Regions from separate parts of the Homo sapiens genome. Here region 2 is reported to be linked to region 1. Evidence: microRNA targets listed by miRTarBase, many of them from high-throughput screens and not tested one by one. Region 1 holds a microRNA gene; the other region holds the end of a gene's coding sequence.
What was found. The annotated mature microRNA hsa-miR-6729-5p reads UGGGCGAGGGCGGCUGAGCGGC and lies in region 1 at 2,806-2,827, opposite strand. An mRNA with a match to its seed (bases 2 to 7 or 8) in the 3' UTR can be bound and repressed. Matches are read on the target gene's strand: a 7mer-m8 pairs with bases 2 to 8, a 7mer-A1 pairs with bases 2 to 7 and ends in A, and an 8mer does both.

Region 2: miRTarBase lists ZNF543 as a target of hsa-miR-6729-5p. Seed matches in the 3' UTR shown: 7mer-A1 at 3,641-3,647.

Annotation. Positions count from the first base shown.
Region 1 is chr1:12,027,602-12,031,989 of GRCh38, reverse strand. It overlaps MIR6729 (microRNA 6729), which reads right to left and starts at 2,832; the gene lies at 2,768-2,832. MIIP (migration and invasion inhibitory protein) reads right to left here. Exons shown (of 10, transcript NM_021933.4): 5 at 2,849-2,957; 6 at 2,709-2,767; 7 at 2,096-2,225; 8 at 1,866-1,962; 9 at 587-724; 10 at 1-268. The coding sequence ends at 182.
Region 2 is chr19:57,328,809-57,333,196 of GRCh38, reverse strand. ZNF543 (zinc finger protein 543) reads right to left here. Exons shown (of 4, transcript NM_213598.4): 4 at 2,427-4,388. The coding sequence ends at 3,932. Among named protein-coding and RNA genes, the nearest start is that of ZNF543, 11 kb to the right of the region's middle.

The DNA of each region.
Region 1 (4,388 bases):
CACCCCAGGGTCCTCCCTCTCTGGAACTCAGGCAGCAGACAAGCTTGGGTCCACCCACCTGCCCAACCTAGGACAGCTGGGCCTGAGCTGGGCGGGCAGGGGATTCCATCTCCTGGGTGCGCCTGCCAGAGGGGAGAGGCTGGAGGCGGCGGGAATGCTGTTCTCCCCCAGGAGTCAGTCCTCAGGGCTTCTGCCGTGGGACGTGGGGCCGAGGGACCTGGGGCACTGACCAGGTCGGGGTCGGGGGCAGCATCTGCATTGGTGAGGCCTGGATGGGGAATAGGGAAGTCTCAGGGGGGCCACTTGAAAGGGACAGGTCATCCCCAGTTCCAGCCACATTCCCTCCTGGATCTTGCAGTCAGGGTGGCCTTCCTGGGTGGAGCAGGGCAGGCGGCAGGGAGCAGAGGAGTTCCGAGGGATGGCTAGGGTCAGGGCTGGAGGGCTGGACCCTGCAGAGAGACACTCCCAGGCTCCATCCTCCCCACCTCAATCCTACCCCCCAGGAGGCTCTGCAGTCCCCAGGCCTGCTGCGAGGTCTCTGTCCCTCTAGGGGGCACCCCAGGCTAGGATGCGATCTGGACCGTACCGGGTGAAAAGGGCTGCTGGTGCCGGACAGCTTCTGGTGCTGGGCCTCAGCGGAGACAGAGGACCAGAGGTCCAGGTTCCTGGGGGCTGAGCTTTTCTCAGACTTCGGAGGAAAAATGTCCCAGCCCAGCAGGCAGTGCTGTGGAAGGCAAGGAGTTAAAAGTGCCTGACCTGGGACAAGCTCCCCGCTGACTGGGCACACCCCCATCAGGGAGGAACTGTGCCCCCCATTAGGAAGGAGGCCCCCACCAAGGCAGGGCCTGTGTCTACCCACAAGACTACCCCAGCTCTCCCCTTTCTTATCCTGGCAGATCCAGCCATCCCTGGGGCCCTGAGAGCTGAAATGGGAGGAGGATAGGACGGTGACAGTGACATTCACAGGGTACTTCCTGCTGTAGGCTCTCCAAGCACCTGCATGGATTGCTTCACTCAACAGCCCCACCTCACCACCAACATCCCTGAGGATGGCGCTGTTATGTCCATTTTACGGACCAGCAAACTGACTTTCCTCTGCATCCTTCTCCTCCTCTGACCCCAGCTGCCCTACTCTCAATTTAGGAGTCAGGGGGAGTTGCCACTGGCACCCCATCCCGACCTGGAGACACAGGAAAGGACATTTTTTTTTTTTTTGAGATGGAGTCTCACTCTGTCACCCAGGCTGCAGTGCAGTGGCGAGATCTCAGCTCACTGCAGCCTCTGCCTCCCAGGTTCAAGCGATCCTCCCACCTCAGCCTCCCAAGTAGCTGGGACTACAGTGGAGGCTGCAGTGAGCTGAGACCATGCCAATGCACTCCAGCCTGGGCAGTAAGAACAAAACTCGGTCTCAAAAAAAAAAAAAAAAAAAAAAAGCAGCAGCAGCAGCACAGAGACCTAGGTTCGAATCCCAGCTCCTCCACCAAGGCGCCTCCCCCTCTGCTTCGGTCTCCCCACCTGCAGGGTGGGGGTACAGCAGTGCCTACACTCCTGGCTGCTGTGGGGGCTCCATGAGATAAGCCCCCTAAGGACTGTGCCTGCAGTACACAAAAGCGCAATAAACAGGACCCATTCATGTCATGCCAGCCTGCAGGCAGATCACCCTGGAAGCACCGGGGTACGTGGAGCGGGGGTCCTACCTCCCTTAGGTACAGGTGTGGGTGATGGAAGAGGCCCAGGCTGTGCTCCAGAGACTTGGGCGCTCACCCTTGTCGAGCCCAGTCTCGCTCTGTGACCCTCCCTGGGGATCTGGGCCAGTCTGAGCCAGCCCCGCCCTCATCACCATCCAGCCCCACGTGGCTGCTCACCCGGGGCAGGGCCAGTGTGTCAGAGGCGTCAAAGCTCTTTCGCCGGTGGATGTGGTACCGGTGCGGGGGCTCCAGGATCGACAGCGGGATGCTCACCCTGCGCAGGGGGGCAGTGGGGGACCCCTGAGGAGCCTCCCAGCGGTTGGGGGCCCACGCCCAGGCCCATCTTTTCTTAAAACCAGTGGTTCAGGCTCTGTCCCCCAAGGTGTCCCAATACTCTGGTCACTCACCTGACGTGCGCTGGCTGCGCCAGGGTCCCAGGGCCCTGCTGGTCTCGCGGTGTCCTGCACAGGCGGCAGGGGGTACCGGGATCCACAGGCACCGGGAACAGGCGCCGGTTGACACGGTAACAGTACACGCCTGCGAGGCCCATGAGAAGCCACAGCTCTCCCTGAGCCAGGAACCCAGGTCCCCAGGCTCCGTGCTGCCCTCAGCGGCCCCCAACCACACAAGCTGCCAATCCCTCTGGGAAGCCCTTCGGCCCATTTCCTCCTAACCCCTTTCCTCCCAGAACCTGGGGCCCACGCCCTAAGGGGTGGGGAGGGACATCCTCCTGGGGCCCTCAGGAGCTGGGATGGAGTCCCACCAGCACAGGGGCACTGCTGGGGAGGGTGGGATGGTGCCACACAGGGCAGCCCCTAATTCGGTGGCCAGGCCTTAGCTCACTCCACCCCTACCAGGGCTTGGCCACCCTGTCCAGACTGCAGGCCTCCCTCCATGAGTCTCAACATCTCAGGGGCCTCCCCAGGCCCCAAACCTCAAATGGGACTGCTCTGGGGCAGGGGAGGCCAGGGCAGCGCGAGGCTGGACTACTCAGCGGCCTAGCCGAGGGCCCGCACTCACATTCATGGTCTTCCTCCACGCCGCTGCCACTGCTCTCACGCAGGCCTGGCAACTGGGGTCTGAGAGGGCGAGGGGGATGAGCAGGCCGGGGGATGGAGCCGCTCAGCCGCCCTCGCCCACCCTCGCCCGCCCCTGCTCACTCAGGATGGCTGCAGATACACTCCTCCTTGTTGGTTTCCCGAAACTCCTGCAGCTTGGAGAAGAAGGCCTCAGGCTGGCTGGTGATGGAAGAGCTGGTGTCCAGAGACCCTGGTGTGGGCAAAGCACCAGGCAGCTGACGGGAGAGGGGCTGGGGGCTGCTGTGTGGCCACCGGCCAAGGCTTGGAGAGACGATCAGCCCTGGCACCCCAGGCCACCTGCTTCATCCCTACTGTGCCTCAAACAGGCCAGGAGGGCCCCTCCAGTCACTGGGACTGTTGGTTGGTTTCAGTGTCTGTCTACCCTGATGCATAGCCAACCATCCATGGAAAAAATATCGACAGAGCCCTTATGACAGGGCTAGATGCTGTTTCATGTGCCAGGAACTAGACAGACAAAGCCCCTGGCCTTAATGAGGCTTACACTGTAAGGTGGCAAGAGATGAACTAGCCACCAAAAAAAAAAAAACCCGTGATACAAGACTGAATGCTGATACCTGCCAGAAAGCAAGAGAGCAGCGTCAGAGCCTAGTATGGCCGGGCAGCCATACCAGGGAAGGCCTCTCCGAGTGAGATGACCCTGAGCAGAGACATGGAGAAGCCACAGAGACCTCCCAGGAAGGACATCGCAGGGAGATGAAAGAGCAAGCGCAAAGGCCCCGGGGTGGGCATGTGCATGGTTCAGCTGAGGAACAGCCAGGAGGGGAAAGTGGCAGGAAGGCAGCGAGGGTGGAGGAGATGAGGTTAAGAAGCCCAGGGAGGGTCTGGGGAATGGGAGGGACACAACCACATCAGCCACATATTTTTACAGAACTCCTCCTCTGGCTGCTTCAAGTTGAGGGGAAGCAGAGGCATCGGTTAGGATTCAGCTGGGGAGAGGTAGGGGCAGCCCCCAACTTACCATGATTCGACTTAGGATGTTTCTTTTTTTATTTTTTGAGACAGAATCTCACCGTGTTGCCCAGGGTGCAGTGCAGTGGAGCGACCTCGGCTCACTGCAACCTCTGCCTCCCAGGTTCAAGCGATTCTCATGTCTCAGCCACCTACAGAGCTGGAATTACAGGCGTGCGCCACCACACCCAGCTAATTTTTGTATTTTTAGTAGAGACGGGGTTTCACCATCTTGGCCAGGCTGTTCTCAAACTCCTGGCCTGATCCACCTGCCTCGGCCTCCCAAAGTGCTGGGATTACAGGCGTGAGCCACCGCACCCGGCCTAAACAGTATTTTCAACTTATGTTGGGTGTATCAGGATGTAGCTGGATGGTAAATCCAGCAAGTTTATGGCCTGACCTATTTAGTATTTGGAGTTGCCATTTATGGAGACAGGAAAGACTGCAGGAGGAGCACAGCAGTGGAAATCAGGACCTTGATTTCGGACAGAAGGTTAATAACTTCATGGTGATGTGGAGAAGACAGTGGGATATACAAGTCTGGAATTCGGAGGAGAGGTGCGGGCTAGAGATACAAATGGAGAAGTAGAGAAAGTGTCCAAACACCTCAGCGTTTGGGAGATCATAGAGGGAAGATAGAGAGGAGGAGTCA
Region 2 (4,388 bases), not on the chromosome of region 1:
CCATTTCTATTCAACATCACACTGGAAGTTCTAGCTAGTGCAATAAACACAAGAAAAGGAAATAAAAGTAATATAGATTGGGTAGGTGAAATAAGATGTTTGGGCCAGGAGCAGTGGCTCATGCCTATAATTCCAGCACTTTGGGAGGCTGAGGCAGGAGGCTCACTTGAGCTCAGGAGTTTGAGACCCGTCTGGCAACATGGTGAAACCTCATCTCTACAAAATACACAAATATTAGCTGGGCATAGTGGAGTGTGCTAGTAATCCCAGCTACTCGAGAGGCTGAGGGTAAAAATTCCTTGAACCCGAGAGGCAGAGGTTGCAGTGAGCCAAGATCGCACCACTGTACTCCAGCTTAGGTGACAGAACAAGAGTGTCAAAAAAAAAAAAAAAAAGTAGAAGTAAGATGTTTGATGTTTGCTAATAACATTAATATTTATGAAGAAAATCCTAAGAAAGCTATTAAAAAATGTTGCTGGAACTACTGACTTCAGCAAAGTCACAGAATACATATAAAAATTCTAATTTATATATTTCTCTATAATTGCAAGTATCAAGTGCAAACTGAAATTTAAAACTCAATACAACATATAATGGCCCTCTAAGAAACTGTCTAGATTTTTAAAATATGTCCATAATCTATAAGCTGAAAATTACAAAACCCTTATGAAATAAATCAACGAGGACCTCAATAAACAGAGGGACGTACCATATTCATGAACTGCAAGACTCAACAAGATGTCAATTCCCACCAAAACGATCTTTAGATTTAAGGCAATTTATATCAAAATCCCAGCAACATATTTCATAGAGACAAACATGCAATAAAATGTATATACAAAGCCAAAGGAAACAATTGATATGAAAGCCAAATCAATTTTTATTTTTTATTTATTTTTTGAGACAGGGTCTCACTCTGTCACCCAGGCTGGAGTGTAGTGGCACCATCTCAGCTCACTGCAACTTCCACCTCCCGGGTTCAAACAATTCTTCTGCCTCAGCCTCCCGAGTAGCTGGGACTACAGGCGCCTGCAACCTTGCCTGGCTAGGTTTTGTATTTTTTAAATAGAGACGAGTTTTCATCATATTGGCCAGGCAGGTCTTGAACTCCTGACCTCATGTAATCTGCCCACCTTGGCCTCCGAAAGTGTTGGGATTACAGGCGTGAGCCACCATGCCTGGCCCCAAATCAATTTTTAAAAAGAATAAAGAGTGAGGAATAAGTTTACCCTATTTTAAAATTTAGTAGATAGCAATAGTAATCAAAATAGAGTGGTATTGGCATAGGTTTAGGCTCGAAGACCAATGGAATAACATAGAGAACCAAGAAATAGACCAACATGAATATACTTAAATAATTTTTTGCTAAGGTGTAAAAGCAATTCAATAGAGGCAGAATAGTCTTTTCAAGAAATGGAGCTTAAAAAAATTCATGGGCAACAACAAAAGAAACTAAAGTTCATACTGTAATACAAAAATTAACTTAACATGAATCAGATCCAATGTAGAAGATAAAATTTGTAGGAGGAAATACGATAGAAAACCTGGTGAGGAGTTCTTAGACATGACATAAAAAGGACAAGGAGGGCCAGGCGTAGTGGCCACGCCTGTAATCCCAACACTTTGGAAGGTTGAGCCAGGCAGATCACAAGGTTAAGAGATGAAGACCATCCTGGCCAACATGGTGAAACCCCATCTCTACTAAAAATACAAAAATTAGCTGGGTGTGGTGGCACAAACCTGTAGTCCCAGCTACTTGGGAGGCTGAGGCAGGAAAATCACTTGAACCCGGAAGGTGGAGGCGGCTGCAGTGAGCCGAGATCTCACCACTGCACTCCAGCCTGGGCAACAGAGCGAGACTCCATCTCAATTAAAAAAAAAAAAGGACCAAGAGATGTCTTCAAAATAATGACATGAATTAATGCAGTACAAAATGGCTTTGCCTACAATAGAAAACTATACAAGTGTTCACTAAAAGGCTGTGAGCGCTGGGCGCAGTGGCTCACACCTGTAATCCCAGCACTTTGGGAGGCCGAGGCAGGTGGATCACCTGTCAGGAGTTCGAGATCAGCCTGACCAACATGCAGAAACCCCATCTCTATTAAAAATACAAAATTAGCTGGGCGTGGTGGCGCATGCCTGTAATCCCAGCTACTTGGGAGGCTGAAGAAGAATCGCTTGAACTCGGGAGGCAGAGGTTGCAGTGAGCCAAGACTGTGCCACTGAACTCCAGCCTGAGCAACAAGAGCAAAACTCTGTCTCCAAAAAAAAAAAAAAAAAAAAGGCTCTGAGGAGGGAAGTCCCACTTGGACACCCCTCTCTTCTCAGAAGAGAGCTAGTCTCTTTTCTCTTTCTTTTGCCTATTAAACCTCTGCTCCTAAACCAAGTAAGTAAATAAGTAAATAAATAAAAAAGGCTTTGAGGAGTTCAAAGTGAATACATGATTATTTTTACTTCTGTACAATATATTTAATATGAGGTAAAACTATCACATGGCTCAAAATCTAGTCTTAAAAATATAAAAAAGGAATTACAAAACGCTCTAAATGTGTAGCATTTTAATCAAGCCTAAGTCCATGGTGACAACTGTGAAAGTCACACATCCCTACATATATGCATGCCGGCTTGCCTGTTAAAATTCCAGTTAAAGTGAATTTTCACACACTCTTTAAAAAGATTAAAAATGACATTCCTTCTATGTTTGTTCTTCTGAGTTTATCATGATCTTTCAAAGGAATTCAGCTACATACTGTATTTTTGGGGGGGCCTTAATTTGACCTTTAGAAAACTGAGGTGGACCTAACTCAAAGGAGAGGTAAAGAAGCTGAGAAACCACAATCATAGGAAAAAACTAAGATTCCCAGGATTACTGTGGGCATGAACAATTACACTATCATCCCTATCCCAGGAAAACTTAAAAAAAAAAAAAAAAAGTAAATCCACATCAAGAAAAAGTATGTGTATTGGGTAAAGACACATGGTGAAACATTTTTTTAAACAAGCATCTGAAGTGGACAATGTGTCCAAACATATGTACATCCTTATCTCCTTATAAAAGTGTTTCATAACTCAAGCCTCCATATTTTTTATAAAGATGTATGCTTCTGCACCTCGAGAGTGGAGAACGTTGCAGGACTAAGCAAGTTTTCACAAAATGTTTTCAAGCCCTCGTTTGTATAACTGTTCTGACACTGGGCAGCAGTGAATGCATACACAGAAAAATAAAGGGGATGAGATCTTTCGTTTCTGAAACATTTCCCTCTCCCACATAAAATAACAAAGGGACGACAAAATTGCCATAGGCTTGTCAGACAAGTCTAAAAGAAGCTGTGGTTTCTTTCTCTTCCCTATATTTCCTCTTCCTTTGTTTAAATATCCCTGAGATGGCCGGGCGCGGTGGCTCACGCCTGTAATCCCAGCACTTTGGGAGGCTGAGGCGGGCGGATCACGAGGTCAGGAGATCGAGACCATCCCGGCTAAAACGGTGAAACCCCGTCTCTACTAAAAATACAAAAAATTAGCCAGGCGTAGTGGCGGGTGCCTGTAGTCCCAGCTACTTGGGAGGCTGAGGCAGGAGAATGGCGTGAACCCGGGAGGCGGAGCTTGCAGTGAGCCGAGATCCCGCCACTGCACTCCAGCCTGGGCGACAGAGCGAGACTCCGTCTCAAAAAAAAAAAAAAAATATCCCTGAGATAATATTTCACTGTAAACTAAGAAGAAAGATGTGGCTGAAAGTTTTCCTAAGTGCATAGCAACCACTGGGTCTCTCTCATGGGTGAATTCTCAGGTGGAGAATAAGACTCCAGGCTGGTTCAATTTCTAACTTGATTGTTTAGACGACAAATGATCATCTATTACACGTTTTCTCAAAGAGAGGATGCTTATGAAGTTTCTCTTCAGTGTGAATGGCCAGATGGTAAGATGTTCCCTTTCACCACAGATTTTCTTCAGTGGTGATATTCAAAAACTCTTTCCCTAATAAAAGTTCCTGGATGTTGACTGAAGTCTGTGCAGTCATAAAAGGTCTTCCCACATCTGTTACAATGGTAGGGTTTCTCCCAGTATGAATCCTTTGATGATGTGTGAGGGATGAGCCGCGATTAAAAGCCTTTCCACACTCACTGCATTCATACGGCTTCTCTCCAGTGTGAATGATGGAGTGTCGAATAAGGTTTGCGCTCCGGCAAAAGGCTTTCCCACACTGGATGCATTCATAGGGTTTCTCTCCAGTGTGAATCTGTTGGTGCCTCGTGAGGTGTGAGCTGCGGTTGAAGGCCTTTCCACACTCCACGCACTCATAGGGTTTCTCTCCAGTGTGGATGCTGAAGTGGCGAATGAGGTCTGCCCTATCACTAAAGGCTTTTCCACATTCTTTGCATTCATAGGGT